Linked DNA regions of Homo sapiens. The protein of the gene in region 2 interacts with the protein of the main gene of each other region in a biochemical or structural test. Each region holds a gene or a part of one and is shown on either strand. Other genes may lie near its edges.

Region 1 (8,884 bases), on a different chromosome or scaffold from region 2:
TACTTGTCCAGCCTCATTTGCTATTATTCCTTCCTCTGTATCCCCTGGTAATACTCAGCTACTGCCCCCATCTTGACTTTGCAATGCTGTTTCCTCTGTCCAGAATACCTTGCCCACCATCCTCCTTGCCAGTCCTACTTATTATTCAAGCCTCATGTCAAACACCACCTCTTTTGTGAAGCTTCATGGGCTCTTGTAGGCAGGTTAGCATAAGGTCCCCACTGCACTTTACCCCAGCTGCCATTGGGCCACTTTTTCGAGTGAGCTATGACAATAGGTTTGCCTGCCTGTCCAGCCTCTCAACTAGGAGCACCCTGAGTGTGCAAGATCCAACACAGGGCCTGGTACAGAATGGGAGCAAGATGCTTGTCATTTCAGTAGAATGCTGAATTCCATTTATTTCATTAGTGTAAGAAATTAAGAGCTGACTCCATAATGAATACCTCATTTTGATACTAATTTTCCTTTCAGAATTATTCGGTATTCTTTTTTAAAAATCAAGTAATAGGCCAAGGTGGGCGGATCACTTGAGGTCAGGAGGTTGAGAGCAGCCTGGCCAACATGGTTAAACCCTGTCTCTACTAAAAATACAAAAAATTAGCCAGGCGTGATGGCGCAGGCCTGTAATCCCAGCTACTTGGGAGACTGAGGCATGAGAATTGCTTGAACCCAGGAGACAGAGGTTGCAGTGAGCCAAGATGGTGCCACTGCACTCCAGCCTGGGTGACAGAGCAAGACTCCATCTAAACAAACAAACAAACAAACAAACAAAAAAAACAAGTAATGCCACCTGCAAATACCTTTGTCATTTACCACATAATACAAACAGCGTAAACATGGCACCTTAATTTTTAAGTACTTAACAATTTCTTGTGTCAACAGCAATGTTTTATCTGTGAATTTTTTCTTCCTTTTTCTACCACAGTGGTTTCAGAACTGTTGCCTGTAACTTCTCTGTGATCTTTACCTCTCCCATACTTGACACAGGACCAAGAAGAACTTTTCTGATTCTTCTCAGAAATTCCAATTTTACGAGGAAAATGCAAATTCTCTTCATGTTAAGAGAATCTGGCTGATTAAAACAAAACAACAGAAGTCTCCCAGTCTAAAAATATTATTTAAACCTCCTGGATTTGAAAGGCTAACGAGTAAATAAAGGCAAAAGTGGGTATAAATGTAAGTGTGAACGTTTAACATGTGCAAAAATCCAAATACACTATCCTCCACTGACAAGGATTAGTGATTTTAATGAGTAGAGCTGAGGACAGAAATGTAAACAGGATGCTAGCTGATGTGCTTGCTAACTTGGGTTCCTTAGTCTGTGTGCTTTGCCACAGTGTTTGCATAAGTTAGATCATGCATTTGCATTAACTTTAAACTCTTCTCCACTTATCATTCCTGCACCAAGTCATTTTAGTTCCCTGGAAGATTCTATGAAAAGATTGCTTAACATTTCCATAACTGAAAAGAAACCTCTAACAGTGGGTCATTTAAGAAGCATATGCCCTTCCTGCAATTTTGTTTCTTCACATATCAACTTGGTGTCCTTTTTATCATCAATGAATCCAGTGAATGATCTATATAATCCTGCCCTGCTAATCTAGCTATAATTGATTTTGATGAGTCAATAAACAGATACGACTGCTTTCTCCGACTACATCCATTTGTTAATCATCCATGATAAGGAAAATAATCTGAGAGATCGCTATTTGCCTTATACTTGGAGAAAGAGCTAAACTTAACTTTAAATTGCTATCAAGGGACATTTATCCTTTGAAACTCTCCTAACTATTCCACACTAAAAGCTTACCATTAATCTAAATAAGGTCTACCTGAATTCCCATGCAATTAATAAAGCACAACAAAATGTGGATTTTTCCCTTGAAGGAGGAAGTTCATAGAGTCCCCTGTTAGAGATGTCATCGGTGTAGGGCAAAAACATCCAACAATACAAACAGGTTTGAAAATAAGTAGGGGAGCCACGGAGACTGCCTTGGTTTTAATTCCTGGCTTGTACCTTACTAACAGAATGAACTTGCTCAAGTCACTGTCCCTCTCTGTAACTCAGTTCTCTCCTCTTCCTCCTCTGTAATATCTGTCTCATATGGCTTTGGCCAGGAATAAAAGTAAGTGCTTTAAACATTGCCTGGCACATAGCAAAGGCTTACTAAAAGTCAGCTATTCTCGTAAGTAACCTGGTAATACCAGCACTTGTGGATACTGATTAAAACTGTTTTGGGAGCCAGGCCAGGCAAGCCGATTGATGGGGGAGGGGGTCAATCACTTGCCTCCAAGTGGTGTCCCAAAACAACAGCCGACTCCCACAGCACAGCCCACCGTCAGGATATCAGAGTAGTAGTATGGCTGCTACTAGGGGAGAGACAGACAGAGAAACAGGTGGAAGAGAGGGAGGTGGGCAGGCAGAGGACAGAACAAGCAGGGATGGGGAATAAGGCAGAATGAGAGGCCTAAGTCAAAAGGAGTCCTTGTGGTCCCATGTCCCCTGTGATTCCCAGGCCAAGAGAAACTCAGTGAGTTTGGCAAAAAGGAATTAACCTCATAGCACAGTGTCAAAATGAAATAGAAGGTAGAAAATGAAATAAAAGTTAGGCAAATATATGCCAGGCACGTAAATCAATAAATGATAAGCAGAAAAGAGACAGCAAGAACTCCAGAAAGCAGTACTAATAAATCCTGCACCAAACAGCAAGCAGTCTCAAAATAATACACAGCCCTTTGCTGAAAAAATATAGGTATCTGGACCGCAGGGGCTGTGATCCACAGTCATTCCCTGGATGCCCACTCCAAAGCTTGTGGCAGCCACCCAAAACCCCCTTCTAAGTCTTGCTTAGGCAACCGGGATAGGGAGGAAGTGCAACTTGCCTCCGACAGGGGCTGCAAAGCAGCATCCCACGCCCACTGCACAGGCCGACACCAGGAGGTCAAGCTGCCCAGGCACGGTCTGCAACAGAGAAGCACGCGGGACAAGGGGGTGGAGGGGTGGGGCAGGCGGGACGTATGTAAGAGGTAGGGTGAGGGATTGGGAGCTACAAAGGGATGGGGGAGCACACGAGGGAAACGTGGAGGGAAACTAACACAGAGGGGGTGGTATGGACTAGCAGGGAGAGCATGGGAGCAGACGACAGACCAGACCTCCATGTGGGGCCACAGGTGAAAGAGGGGTGGACATTTGGAGGACAGGCACAGGCTAAACAGAGGCATCACGTGGCCAGGGTAGGCAGACAGGGAGACGAGGAAGGGAGCGTGGATTAGTGCGATGCTGCTTCAGCACCACAGCCAGCCCAGAGCAGAGGCAGCCCTCCCAACACCCTGGACACACAGCCGGACTCCTTCTACCACCTGGCCCCAGCTCATTTCACTGTCTCAACCTTACCTCATATACCCCGCAGAACACAGACATGAATTTGCTGAGGACAGCAGCACAGATGCTGGCAATGTGGACGAAGGGGCCCTGGGAGAGGGGGAGCGAGGGGGCGGGGGTCAGAGGCCAGATGGAGGCTCTGCAGCACTCACTGGACTAATAATATTCCTTACTCCAGGCACTGTGCCAGGGGCTGGAAATACGGGAGTTACACAGAGGTCCTGCCCTCACGAGGCCTCATCCCAGAGAGGAAGAAGAGGAGAAACCAGTGTGTTTCTCCTCTCCAGAGAGCCAGGGTGGAGGAGGGTGGGAGGGCACGTGTTTAGAGGAAAGGGCCTGAGGAGCCTGCCTAAAGTAGAGCTTTGAATGATGGGAGGGAGGGAGCCGCGCAGATGTCAGGAGGAAGAATGTTCCAGGCTGAGAAAACAGCACACAGGCGCCCTGAGGGGCCCAGGGCAGAGTGACTGAGGGACAGAAAGGAAACTTGTGAGCCAAACACAGGAAAGCAGGGGCACAGGCCTGCAGAGAGGAGGAACCAGAGTCCACGGTCTCGAAGGCCACGCAAGAAGTTCTGATAAGGCCGGGCGCGGTGGCGCACGCCTGTAATCCCAGCACTTTGCAAGGCCAAGGCAGGTGATCACCCGAGGTCAGGAGTTTGAGACCAGCCTGACCAATATGGTGAAACCCTATCTCCACTAAAAATACAAAAATTACCAGATGTGGTGGCGTGTGCCTGCAGTCCCAGCTACTCGGGAAGCTGAGGTGGGAGAATCGCTTGAACCTGGGAGGTGGAGGTTGCAGTGAGCCAAGATCGCACCACTGCACTCCAGCTTGGGCAAGCGAGCTAGACACTGTCTCAACAACAACAACAACAAAACTTTCAATTTTGTTTTAAGAGGCATGGAAAGCCTTAAGAAGTTTTTGACCAGGGGTCAGATGAGACTGATCCCATTTTTAAAAGATGCCTCTGGCTGCTGGGTGGAATATGGCAGTAGGGGGCAAAGATGAACACCAGCAGAGAACGGAAGGAGGCTGCAACCCACCGAGCAACCTTGAAAATAGCACAGCCTCTTTCTCAGTCCTAGTTTTCTCAGATTCAAGCAAGAGAATTGGTCTGGATGATCTCTAAGACAGTGTTCTCAACCAGGGGAGATTTTGTCCTCCAGGGTCCATATGGCAATGTCTGAGGACATGCTGGTGTCACAACTGGGCGATGCAGCTGGGCATCTAGGAAGGGTCAGAGGCCAGCAATGCTGCTAAGTCCCCTCCACTGCACAGAACAGCCTCCCCACAGCACAGAGTTTTCCAGCCCCAAATGTCAGGGGTGTCCAGGCTAAGAGCCTGCTCCAAGCTCCCCAAGCTGTGTGGTTTTTGTCATTGGACCTCAGTTGGAGGAACTTCCAAAGCATTTCCCCTTCCTAGTGTCCCCTGGCCCTGGCCTTGGTCCTGTCCCCTGATCCACTTCCACTCCCAGAGCTCCCTCTAGAGTTGGTGCCACCCTGGCTCCTGAGGGCCCCTCCCAGCTCTGGCTTCAGTCATGCCAGGCCTACCTCTTTCCCCACGGGGATGCCACTGCCCAGGCCCGCAGTCAGGGCGACAACCTTGGCCACAAAGGCTTTCATTGTGAGGTATTCCTTCAGGACAACCCCACGAAGTATTGTCTTCATTTCGGGGATTCCAGAGCCTAAAAGCGTTGAAAGATTATGTGCAGGGTCAAGGTGAAGGTGAAAAGGGAGATGAATGTCCAGAATATGGGAATGGGAATTGGAGAGGGCTGAAGAGGCAGTGGTGGGGAGGATGGGGCAAGGCAGCACAGGGCTGTGGGTGGGGCTGGATGATGGGGGAGACAGACAGGGCCCCTCTCAGGCCACCCAGCTCAGGCCGAGTCTGGTGGCAAGTTCTCACCAACAGCCTGGGGAGAGATGAGGTGGCAGAAGAGGGCGCTGAAGAGGATGAGGACTAGTGGGAAGGTGACCCAGACCAGGAACTGCAGAGGAAGGCTGGGCTGCATCTGCGCGTAGGACCACTTGTAGGCTGCGGAGACACATGCCTGGGGTTAGGCAGAACATGGCTGAGCAGCCGTGTCCACGGCACCAGGACGTGTACCCGGCATGTTCTCAGGCCGTGCTCCTTCTGTGTGCCCCTTCTGAGATGGTGCTGCTCTCATTTGACACATGGGAAGCCTGAGTTATGGAGGCGACATGGCCTGTTCCAGTTGGTGGCTGTGTCACGAATCCCACTGGAGTACAGGGTCTGGAGGCCTGGGTGTGACCAACCACCCGGTGTGCCCAGAACCAAGGGGCTTCCTGGGATTCGGGATGTTCAGTGCTGAAACTGGGAAAGTCCCTGGGGAACTGGGGCAAGTTGGCCACCCTATTAGAGGGGCATCCACTGCTTGGGTGGCAGTGAGTGGAGGGGCGTGAGAAGTGGAGCAGGCCTGGGTCTGGTCTTTTCTGGGCCTGGAGTCCCACCTGATCCCTCTCTGCGCAATATTCGCTTCCCATAACACACCCTGCTTAACATTCGCTTCCGATAACACACCCTGCTTACCCTAGGTAGAAACTCCAGAAACGGCTGTGGGCAAAGGTCCAGGTTAAACCTACCCTGAAGGCTTTTGGCACTGACGTAGTCCATGCTCCAGCTGACCAGAGCCATCAGCAGTCCCAGAAGCACCAGAAAGATCCCGTCTTCCCCTAATTTTCTTCTCACCACCTGTCCCAGGCGGTGGATACAATCTAGGAAGAGATGAGGGAAAAAACAAACAAACAAACAACAAACAAACAAACAAACAAAAATATATATATGTAGAGACAGAGAGAGAGAGAGAGAGAGAGAGAGAGAGAGAAAAGCAGCTAACGAGTCACTACTTTACTTTGGGTGCTATACCCAAGATGGGAGGGGAAGCCTTGGGCCCCCAGGGTCCGTATGTCTTATGCACTGAGTTTCTCATTACCCCTCTGCTGATTGCTGCTCCGGCCCCTGCAAAAGGCACCAAAGCCCAGTTCCCCATGAATACTTGAATTCCTTCCTAAAACTCATTTCTTGGAGTTGTGGGAGGAATAACAGGGAATAGGCAAAGTGCGAAGGAGGTGAAGAGAGGTGCCTTTTCCTTAATACTTAGAGGGGCCAAGCATGGTGGCTCACGCCTCTAATCCCAGGAATTTGGGAGGCTAAGGCGGGAGGATTGCTTGATGCCAGGAGTTCAAGACCAGCCTCAGCATCCTTACAAAAAAAGTTTTAAAATTAGCTGGGCATGGTGGCATGTGCCTATAGTCTCAGCTACTGGAGAGGCTGAGGCAGGAGGATCACTTGAGCCCAGGAGTTCTAGGCTGCAGTGAGCTATGATCACTCCACTGCACTTCAGTCTGAATGACAGAGTGAGACCCTGTCTCTTAAAAACAATTAGAGGAGAGTTTTTGTAGCAGGGCAGGGAGTACGTACGTGCAATGGGATGCCCAAGTTATTCTCCTAATCCCTGTACCTGTTTCTACTCCAGATTTCTTTATTCCTCAGTCCCCATCACCTTGACATTTAGAATAGTGATCCTCATCCTTGCTGTCCACGGTAGAACTGGAGCCTGTCTTCTTGGGCATCCCTATGTCCTGCTCCCTGTCTGAGAATTGTTCTTTGTGATGGCCATAAATCTGGACAGAGAGAGAATGATCAGTGTCTGCCTTGTGGAAGACTAAAAAAATAATAGACAGAGGCCAGCAGACAGACTCACAGAAGAAAAGAACAACAGCTTTTTGAATTCTGGGTGTTGACTGCATGCAGGGTGACTTTGTGGTCATCCCTGCCCTCTACTCTCCACCCTCCATTCCCACACTTCCCACCCTTTCCCTTGTTCATTCATCCTACCTTCTCTACACCCATTCTCCAACCTGTACTCACCTTGATCCAGGGTAGCCTTTATCAAGGAGGCCAGTTTTTGCTTTGAAGCAGAGGTACAGAACTGTGCTGAACCCAGGTGGCCATATCAATCAGGTGTTTTGTGTCACTGCGCTTTCTGTATGTCCCACAATTTCCCCAGACCACTTGCATTGACTTTTCTCCTAACATGAACAGGGTGAGGACAGACTGGGCTAACTAGCAGGGCAGTCTTGGTTGCACTTTGCCTTGGTGTGTCTAGCCTTACCTGAGGCACCTCAGGTCCTCTATCAAGCTTCAAGACCATCCACTTCATCTCCCAGTGCTTGTATGCACACACAAGAACTAGCCCGAAAAGGCAGGTCCATCTACTTCTTCCCACAGCTAGATAATTAGACCCCTACCTGCCCCACATGTGAAGAGGACAGAGCAGCTCCCCCAGGTCTGGTGGCCCTCCGCTTCCATCCTGAGGCAGAGCACGTGTGTCTGTGTGGGGTATACAAGAGCTCCAACCACTTTTAGCCTGCCCCACTCCCACTACACTAACTGTCCTCTGGGGCCAGGGTCAGGCCAGGCCATGTTGCTGGATTCTGGGAGAGCCTGAGTAGAAGAGATCTGATTTCACAATATGAGCAGCATTTTACACCGCAGTCCTGAACAAGCACGCACATGAATTGCCCTGCTCATGGCTGTTTGTCTTCTGGGTCAGTGACCGAGGGAGGCAGTGTTTCCTTCCAAACCCTGCGTGGGACCCAGAGAGAGAACATACTTCCCAGTGGAAGTCAGACAGCTGAGGCTGTCTCAGCTCCTCAAGGCCCCAGGCCAGTGGAGACAAGGAAGGGGGTTGCTTCATATCATCATACCTGGGCTGGGAAAACACTTAAAGGGCCAGATCTGTTCTGGCTGGTCCCATGCAGGGCAGGGTGAGGGGAGGGCAAGGGAGAAGTCAAAACTCAAGTCTACAAGTGATACAATGTCTGGGATTTGTTAAAAAGTATTCCAAGGTGGAAGCAAGGCTCAGTGGCTCACCCCTGTAACCCCAGCACTTTAGGAGCCTGAGATGGGCAGGTTACCTGAGGTCAGGAGATCAAGACCAGCCTGACCAACATGGAGAAACCTCGTCTCTACTAAAAATACAAAAATTAGCCAGGCATGGTGGCGCATGCCTGTAATCTCAGCTACCTGGGAGGCGGAGGCAGGAGAATTGCTTGAACCAGGGAGGCGGAGATTGCGGTGAGCTGAGATCGCGCCATTGCATTCCAGCCTGGGCAACAAGAGCGAAACTCCATCTCAAAAACAAAAAACAAAAAACAAAAAACAAAAAAAAAGTATTCCATGGTGTGTAGAGTGGTGAGGGTGGGGAAGGGAAGAATAGATGGAACAATAGTGACAAAATATTGACAACTGGTGGGTACTTGGGGCTTCACTATACCATTCCATTTTTGTGTAAGTCTTCCATAATAAAAATTAAACAAAGAAAAACTAATCCAAACTCTTGTTTACTTTTGAGACCTGTAGAAAACAGGCCAATTCTACTCCCCAAACTAACCATAGCTTCCCAACACGAGAACTGTCATCAGGAAGTGCCATAATGGCACTGTTACTCAAGTTGCCATCCCACCCAGATACAACCAT
Region 2 (8,884 bases):
GTCTTGATCTTTGTGCACTGTCTTCAGTGTGAATCTTAACAGATTAAACCACTGCGCTAATGAAGCTTGTGTGTGACAGTAATTTGGGGCTGTTTTATCTATCTTCTAGTTTTATGTCCCTTGTGTATGACATTAGGAAAAAATTGAGGTCATGCGTATGACCGTTTTGGACAGTCCTGACTGTCGGGAGCCTGAATGTAAAAAGGCACTAAAGCTAAGGGAGTATGAGATAGCTACTGTCTGTGTATGGGGCAAAGCATGAAATTTGTGCTTTGATAAACATTTCCGAAGTGAACAGTCATATCATAAAGAAGGGTGCAAGTAGATCTATCTGTCCATGATTTTTGTTAATTTGTTTTTAAAGTACACTCGAAGCATAGTAGTGTGGAAGGAATCTTCGGTGTCATCTTGCTCAGACCTCCTTTTTTTTTTTTTAGACAGAGTTTTGCTCGTCACCCAGGCTGGAGTGCAGTGGCACGATCTTGGCTCACTGCAACCTCCACTTCCCGGGTTTAACCAGTTCTCCTGCCTCAGCCTCCCAAGTAGGATTACAGGTGCCCGCCACCACGCCCGGCTAATTTTGTATTTTTATTAGAGATGGGTTTCACCATGTTGGCCAGGCTGGTCTCGAACTGTGTCTGGCCGACGCTTTTTTTTTTTAATATAGGGACTAAAAATTGGTAGCATAGTTTTGTGCACATTAAATGGTAAGAAATAGATAAATATAGGCCGGGCGTGGTGGCTAACGCCTGTAATCCCAGCACTTTGGGAGGCCAAGGTGGGCGGATCACGAGGTCAGGAGATCAAGACCATCCTGGCTGACACAGTGAAACCCCGTCTCTACTAAAAATACAAAAAATTAGCCCGGCGTGGTGGCATGTGCCTGTAGTCCCAGCTACTCGGGAGGCTGAGGCAGGAGAATCGCTTGAACCCAGGAGGCGGAGGTTGCAGTGAGCTGGGATCGCACCGTTGCACTCCAGCCTGGGCAACAGAGTGAGACTCCATCTCAAAAAAAATAAAAAATAGGTGAATACTACAATAAATATGGTGCTTTACCATGAAAAAGACCTGAAGTTTATTTGTGAAAGTGGGCATCAAAGCCAGGCGCGGCGGCTCACGCCTGTAATCTCAGCACTTTGGGAGACTGAGGCAGGTGGATCACGAGGTCAGGAATTGGAGACACACCTGGCCAACATGGTGAAACCCCATCTCTACTAAAAAATACAAAAATTAGCCGTGTGTAGTGGCACGCACCTGTAATCCCAGCTACTTGGGAGGCTGAAGCAGAAGAATTGCTTGAACCTGGGAGGTGGAGGTTGCAATGAGCCAAGATCATGCCACTGCAATCCAGCCTGAGCGACAGAGCAAGACTCTGTCTTGCGGGGGGAAAAGGTGGGCATCAGAAGGGTTGCAGCTTGAGGACTACTATGGAATGGTAGAAGGAGAGTCATCCACAATCAGAGGGAACATTACACTCGTTGAGGATGGGTATGGCTCACAACACACGCTGTAAACTGAGGTCATTGGCAGATAGGTGTTTGAGATGTGTGTGTTTTATGTATCCTGTGTAGCTGGGTGAGGCTTTCCGTATTCACCTAGTGTTTCTCATGGATGGAGTCACATATAAGCAAACATGAACTTCTCATTATAATCAAATTGTTCCCTAATATTTCAGTTGCACTGAAATAAATTGATATTTTCAAAACAAGTATTCTAGCAGAACTACTGGCTTTTGACCCAAGTTCTCATGGTATAACTCATGCTAGTACCAAATCTGTAGCTCTTTGTCTCACATTGTAATAACATAGTTGGTTTCCAGTAACCTGGTGAGGAAAGACATTTCTTTTGGGGGTGCGGGTGTTGATTGCATCTGGCATGTGGCATTCTCAGAATAAAGAGGATCAGTTCAGCCATCCAAAAGCAGCAGAAGTGAGGTAGCAGTTAGGACCCTGGAGCAGAGACCTTTCCTGCCAAGGAGTGGACTAATGACATTGCATTGGTTTTGACAGGTACTTCTAAGTCAGGAGTACAATACAAAGGACATGTGGAGATCCCCAATTTGTCTGATGAAAACAGCGTGGATGAAGTGGAGGTTTGTGCTTCATAACTCCTAATCCGAGTCCTCTATATCCTCTTATTCTCAGATGAGAAAAGTGACCTGTCATTCAGGATTCATAGCCCAGGCTTGGTCCAAGCATTCAGAACCCTAGCCTGCAGATAATTTTCTAGGCATATGGTGCCATTGGAAACTTCTAGAGCAATTTGCACTTCTTTAATTTCTTCACTTTAGCTAGTGACATGGGTTCTAACTAACATTAGCCACTTGACAGAGAGGACTCAAGAAGGAACACTAATGGGGATTGTACGAATACCGCAGTACTCATGCATTTCCTTTGGAAATGTCAGCAGTCACCTGATTGCTCAGCCCCCACATTCCATAATGAGGGTGCCCCTCAAGTTATTTACCACCTACTTCTCATCTTTCACCCAGATTAGTGTGAGCCTTGCCAAAGATGAGCCTGACACAAATCTCGTGGCCTTAATGAAGGAAGAAGGGGTGAAACTTCTAAGAGAAGCAATGGGAATTTACATCAGCACCCTCAAAACAGGTATCCCTTGAGTAGTTCTGTATGCCTTAAGGAGGTAGTTTCCACCTGTTAGACTCTGGTTAAGGGCCTGGACAGTCCTTTCTTTGGCAAATGGGTAAAGATTTGGGGGGAGGGGGCTTATTTCATCTTAAAGTCAGTCCATAAGCTCGGAGTAAGGGAAAGATCTGGAGCTGTGTTGCCTAATAATGATGGTTGAGCATTTTAGATGTGGCTAGACCAAACTGAAATGTACTGTGATGGCCTGGCGCGGTGGCTCACACTTGTAATCCCAGCACTGTTGGATGCTGAGGTGGGCTGATTGCCTGAGCTCAGGAATTTGAGACCAGCCTGGGCAACATGGCGAAACCCTGTCTCTACAAAAAATACAAAAATTAGCTGGATGCGGTGGCCCATGCCTGTAATCCCAGCTACTCGGGAGGCTGAGGTGGGAGAGTGGCTTGAGCCCAGGAGGCAGGGAGGTTGCATTGAGCTGAGATCATGCCACTGCACTCCAGCCTGGATGACCAAAAAACACAAGAGATGTGCTGTGAGTATAAATTACACTACGGGCTGGGCACAGTGGCTCACACCTATAATCCCAGCCCTTTGGGAAGCCGAGGTGGGCGGATCACCTGAGGTCGGGAGTTCGAGACCAGCCTGACCAATAGAGAAACCCCATCTCTACTAAAAATACAAAATTAGCCGGGCATGGTGGTGCATGCTTGTAATCCCAGCTACTCAAGAGGCTGAGGCAGGAGAATTGCTTGAACCCAGGAGGTAAAGGTTGCGGTGAGCCAAGAACGCGCCATTGCACTCCAGCCTGGGTGACAGAGGGAGACTCCATCTCAAAAAAAAAAAAAACAAAAAAAAAACTGTATTTGAGGCTCACATTATATTTCTAATGGACAGCGCTAATCTAAAGACTTGGCATCTCTGGACTCATTACTTGAATACAGTCTGGACTATCTTTGATATGCACTCTCCAGGGATATTTAGATGCTTAGAATAGAAGTCAGCTCAGCTTTCCCCTGGGATTCCATTTCTGCCAGTGTATTCTGATCTTGGTGTTGGAATATGTATAATAACCATCAAAGAAGGTGATGGAAGGTGATAGACACCTTTTTGGGGAGGACCAGTACACCAGTGCCATAACTAGTTGTGGCTTTTCTGCAGAGGTAAGGCAGAGTGGAGGAAAGGCACTAACCATGCATCCATAGGTGCTGGGTAGATTACCCACTCTTGAAGTCATCAAAGTGCCACGGCGTTCACGCCATCCTTCCATAGTAGACCTCACATGCACTTAATATGTTATAATGTTTCCAGTTGAGTCAGGATAAGCTTTTAAAAATAATCCCAGTGGCCAGGTGCAGTGGCTCACACCTGTAATCCCAGCACTTTTGGAGGCCGAGGCTAGTAGATCACAAGGTCAGGAGATCAAGACCATCCTGGCCAACATGGTGAAACCCCGTCTCTACTAAAAATACAAAAATTAGCTGGGCATGGTGGTGCACGCCTATAATCCGAGCTACTCAGGAGGCTGAGGCAGGAGAATAGCTTGAACCAGGGAGTCAGAGGTTGCAGTGAGTTGGAGTGCAGGCTGCACTCCAGCCTGGTGACAGAGCAAGACTCCATCTCAAAAAAAAAATAATAATAATCCCAGTGAACATACTGTATTCTATAGCATATACCCAGGTACCAGTCTGGCATAGGCCAAAAGTAAAGATGTAAAAATAGCCTCTTCCTTTTCTGGTCATAACCTCATTCTGTGGTAGGATGGCTGTGTTTGTCAAGCTGTAATGAAACTCCAGATCTCAGCTACTAAGAAGTAACTTCCATGAGCTGGAATTTTATCTTTTCAGAGTTCACCCAGGGCATGATCTTACCTACAATGAATGGAGAGTCAGTAGACCCAGTGGGGCAGCCAGCACTGAAAACTGAGGAGCGCAAGGTAAATGGTTTTCCTGGGGTGGGAGACTGTCTGCAAAGGAACTTGAGAGACCGCCTTCTTAATTCCACATATCAGCTCTCTGTGTCCCTAACCTCTAAGCCAGACCAGCCTGCGATCTGCTCATGGTGCTTTTTCAGAGCGCCTGCAATATGCATTCATTCACCCATCTTTAACCTGGTTTTAATTCATTTATCGCAGACCTTTAGAGCAAGTAGGAGCTATCAGACAGTTAAAAGTCTGACTCTTGATTGCATTTAGCACCAGTTAGGAGGTTATGAACAAAGGATGGACTTCACCTATATAAGTCTTCAGTCTAATTGGTGTGTTGATATTTCATACTTTGATATTAGAGGTCCCATCAAGAAATGGAGTTACATCCCTGTCTTCACCCAATCTCCCCAATTTTCAGGGTGAGCAAGTACTTTATCTAGAGATGGAAGTTTGTGGTTCAAGCTCAGCACTTGGTTTAGAGCCCTGTTGCTCTTTTGTCAGCATAGTGAAGTGGATACTCTGGAAGTGGGGAGAAAACCGCTTCCAGCTATTTAAACATAGAAATTGTTTGAGAATTACACTGAGCTCTTCAAAAATATCTCAATGATTTGATTTGTTATTTGACTATCAGGGTCTTCCTTGTAGAGTGGTTATTTTTACTGGGAATTGAGGAGGTTTCCAGAATCATTACCCTCATGACTGAAACACCTACACACTCAAATTCCCTTCAAACCCCTTGGAATAATTACCCTTGGAGGTGAACATTTTTATGAGAATGAATGGTACAACTGTCTCTGAAGCCACGTTGATTGAGGTTGTATCATTACTCTGTATTGATCATTTTCACTGCCACCTTCACAGGCTAAGCCTGCTCCTTCAAAAACCCAGGCCAGACCTGTTGGAGTCAAAATCCCCACTTGTAAGATCACTCTTAAGGAAACCTTCCTGACGTCACCAGAGGAGCTCTATAGAGTGTTTACCACCCAAGAGGTAAGTAAGTCTTGTCCTTCAGGCCTCATGCCATCTGCCCTTCTAGGTGACTTGAGTTGGGGGCATATCCCTTCAGCAGTGTACAGAAGAGGTACTCACAAACTCACAACTGGAGCCATGAGGCCTTCATCAAAGTGAATTTTTCCCTCCCTCTATTCTCTTTTTTTTTTTTTGAGACGGAGTCTCGCTCTGTCACCTGCCCAGGCTGGAGTGCAGTGGCACAATCTCAGCTCACTGCAACCTCTGCCTCCCAGGTTCCAGCAATTCTCCTGCCTCAGCGTCCTGAACAGCTGGTACTATAGGCACACGCCATCACGCCTAGCTAATTTTTATGTTTTTTAGTAGAGATGGGGTTTCACCATATTTTTTAGTAGAGATGGGCTGGTCTGAAACTCCTGACCTCAAGTGATCTGCCTGCCTCAGCCTCCCAAAGTGCTGGGATTACAGGTGCAAACCACTGTGCTCGGCCATATTTATTTATTTTAAAAACAAAAGACCTGGTCTTGCTATGTTGCCCAGACTAACGTTGAACTTCTGGGCTCAAGCGATCCTCCTTCCTCAGCCTCCTGAGTAGCTGGGACTACAGGTGCACACTACCGTGCCTGTTCCAGTTTTGGGTCATATAAGTAGAAACCACTGAGTGAATCTTACTAGAAAAGTGAATGGCCATTCTTGGTTACTCTGTAGCACAGAAGAATTCCTGGCTTCTTTGTGTTGCACAGCTGACTTGTGCCATTCTGCTGCTATAGTGTGGAGTTGAGAAACATGACCGTATTCAGCTTTATTATCTGATAGTAAAGGTGGTTAGGATATGTGGAAGTTCCCATATACTCTGGGACAAAATTTCAAGATCTTATTTTTTAAACAAAAATGTAAATACAGCCATAAATTAAGAGGTACCATGTAGTATATGGGTGTTAGTATGTCTGTGCGCCTGCACCCAAAATACTCTCGTGATAAGTTCTCTCCCCCTTAGAAAACCAAGAACTGGAGAAGCAATTAAATGGACTGGGTTTTCTAGAAATTTAAAAAGATGTGTATAAACAAAATTGTACTGTACTTCAGAAAGTTATCTTAGTTGACTCCAGAGATGTGTTATGACCTGGCTATGCCAAAGACTGCATTCGATGGCTAACTTGGTTCTACTTGGTGCCTGCTGCCTTGAAGGACTTAGCAGCATAGCTGTGGTCTTCATGTGAATTGAATTTAGCACTTCAACACAGACTTCAGTTGAATCTCTGCTTCCAAACTAGCTAAAGTTTTCAGAGTTTTAAAATACTTTTGTATGGGAGGATTCCTAACATTTTTAACCTTCTGTTTATTTTTAATTTTGTACCATGTATTCGTATTACCTACTTTAAAAAATAGTAAAGTCTTATTAAAAGTAAAAGCGGCACCGTTGGGTAATCGAACACAGCAAAATGATACTGATTTCATATATATGGAGTAGGCCAGGCACAGTGGCTTACATCTCTAATCCCAGCACTTTGAGGGGCTGAGGCGGGTGAATTACTTGAGCCCAGGAGTTTGAGACCAGCCTGGCCAACATGGTGAAGCCCTGTCTCTACAAAAAATACAAAAATTAGCCAGGTATGGTGGTATGCGCCTGTAGTCCCAGCTCCTCAGGAGGCTGAGGTGGGAGGATCACCTAAGCTTAGGAGGTCGGGGCTGCAGTGAGCCATGATCATGCCACTGCACTTCGGCCTGGGCAACAGAGCGAGACCTATCTCAAAAAAAATAAAAGGGCTGGGCGCGGTGGCTCACGCCTGTAATCCCAGCACTTTGGGAGGCCAAGGTGGGTGGATCACGAGGTCAGGAGTTCAAGACCAGCCTGGCCAAGATGGTGAAACCCCATCTCTACTAAAAAATACAAAAAGTTAGCCAGGCATGGTGGCATGCGCCTGTAATCCCAGCTACTACAGAGGCTGAAGCAGAGAATTGCTTAAAACCTGGACGGGCGGAGGTTGCGTGAGCCGAGATCGCGCCACTGCACTCCAGCCTGGGCAACAAAGTGAGACTCCGTCTCAATAAATAAAAAAATAAAATAAAATAAAAGATGGAATAGATCTATTTTGGGACATGTTCTCAGAAATGATAATAGAAGTCTCAAACATTTACTTGAGAATTTTCTTTCATAAGCTCATTCTTATATCTTTCTGAACCATATACAATTTCAAATAAATAAAAGTAAACGGGTCCAAAGTAATGGCATCATCAGATCAGAAAGAATTCCCGAAGTCAAGTCCTGGCTGGTATTAAAACAGAATAGAGGGACACCCTGGACCCGCCTGTGGGGCAGACTGGTGGAAATGAGAGTTGAGGCATGCAGCCTTCAGCTGGCATTTGTCCTTGGGTCCCACTGAAAGCCATGTATCTTCTGCCTCTTTTTTTTTTTTTTTTTTTTTTTCCCTGCAGCTGGTGCAGGCCTTTACCCATGCTCCTGCAACATTAGAAGCAGACAGAGGTGGAAAGTTCCACATGGTAGATGGCAACGTCTCTGGGGAATTTACTGATCTGGTGAGTACCTGCCGGCCCTAGACTCAGGTTATTGCCTCTGGTCAGATGAGTGACATTTCTCTTTTTCTGAACTCTATAGGTAAAATGTAAGGCTTTAATCTCTTTGTTAATAAAACATTTTGTTTTTCAAAAAAAGGCTGTGATTTGAACTGTCTTGCAAGTAATATAATTGCACAGATGGTAGACTCCGTATGAAGGGCAGATGACTGATCCTAGCTAGGATTGGGTACATTGTAGTATATAATATAGACTGAGCTGTTTGATTATTTTAGGTCCCTGAGAAACATATTGTGATGAAGTGGAGGTTTAAATCTTGGCCAGAGGGTAAGTAAACATATTTATTGCCATTACCCCCAGAACTTTTTCTCTTTGCTGTAATTTTTTTTTTTTTTTTTTTGGAAACAGGGTCTCACTGTCACTCAGGCTAGAGTGCAGTGGCATAATCACAGCAAACTGCAGCCTTAACCTCCCAGACCCAAACGATCCTCCTGCTTCAGCTTCCCAAGTAGCTGAGACTACGTGTGCCACCATGCCAGCTTTTTTTTTTTTTTTTTTTTTTTTACTTTTTTACTTTTTTTGTAGAGATGGGGTCCTACTACATTGTCCAGGCTAGTCTCGAACTCCTGGGCTCAAGTGATCCTCCTGCCTCAGCCTCCCAAAGTGCTGGGATTACAGGTGCATGCCACCACGCCCACGTAATTTTAGTAGAGATGGAGTTTCACCATGTTAGCCAGGCTGGTCTGGAACTCCTGACCTCTGGTGATCCGCCCACCTCAGCCTGCCAAAGTGCTGGGATTACAGGTGTGAGCCACCACGCCCAGCCAGGTTGCCCCAGTCTTAAACTCAGATG

The links. The genes of interacting proteins can lie anywhere in the genome.
Region 1: the proteins of AHSA1 (region 2) and CLCN1 form a complex in vitro, tested with the Homo sapiens proteins (one study listed by BioGRID).

What each region holds. Positions count from the first base shown.
Region 1 is NC_000007.14:143,317,897-143,326,780, reverse strand, and holds part of CLCN1 (chloride channel protein 1), read right to left. Parts: intron 7,027-8,884; coding exon 6,906-7,026; intron 6,118-6,905; coding exon 5,986-6,117; intron 5,417-5,985; coding exon 5,288-5,416; intron 5,067-5,287; coding exon 4,933-5,066; intron 3,473-4,932; coding exon 3,395-3,472; intron 2,371-3,394; exon of another isoform or gene 2,368-2,370; coding exon 2,289-2,367; intron 1-2,288. UniProt on the Homo sapiens protein: Voltage-gated chloride channel involved in skeletal muscle excitability.
Region 2 is NC_000014.9:77,460,151-77,469,034, forward strand, and holds part of AHSA1 (activator of 90 kDa heat shock protein ATPase homolog 1), read left to right. Parts: intron 1-2,009; coding exon 2,010-2,092; intron 2,093-2,491; coding exon 2,492-2,609; intron 2,610-4,447; coding exon 4,448-4,536; intron 4,537-5,388; coding exon 5,389-5,517; intron 5,518-7,932; coding exon 7,933-8,034; intron 8,035-8,306; coding exon 8,307-8,358; intron 8,359-8,884. UniProt on the Homo sapiens protein: Acts as a co-chaperone of HSP90AA1. Activates the ATPase activity of HSP90AA1 leading to increase in its chaperone activity.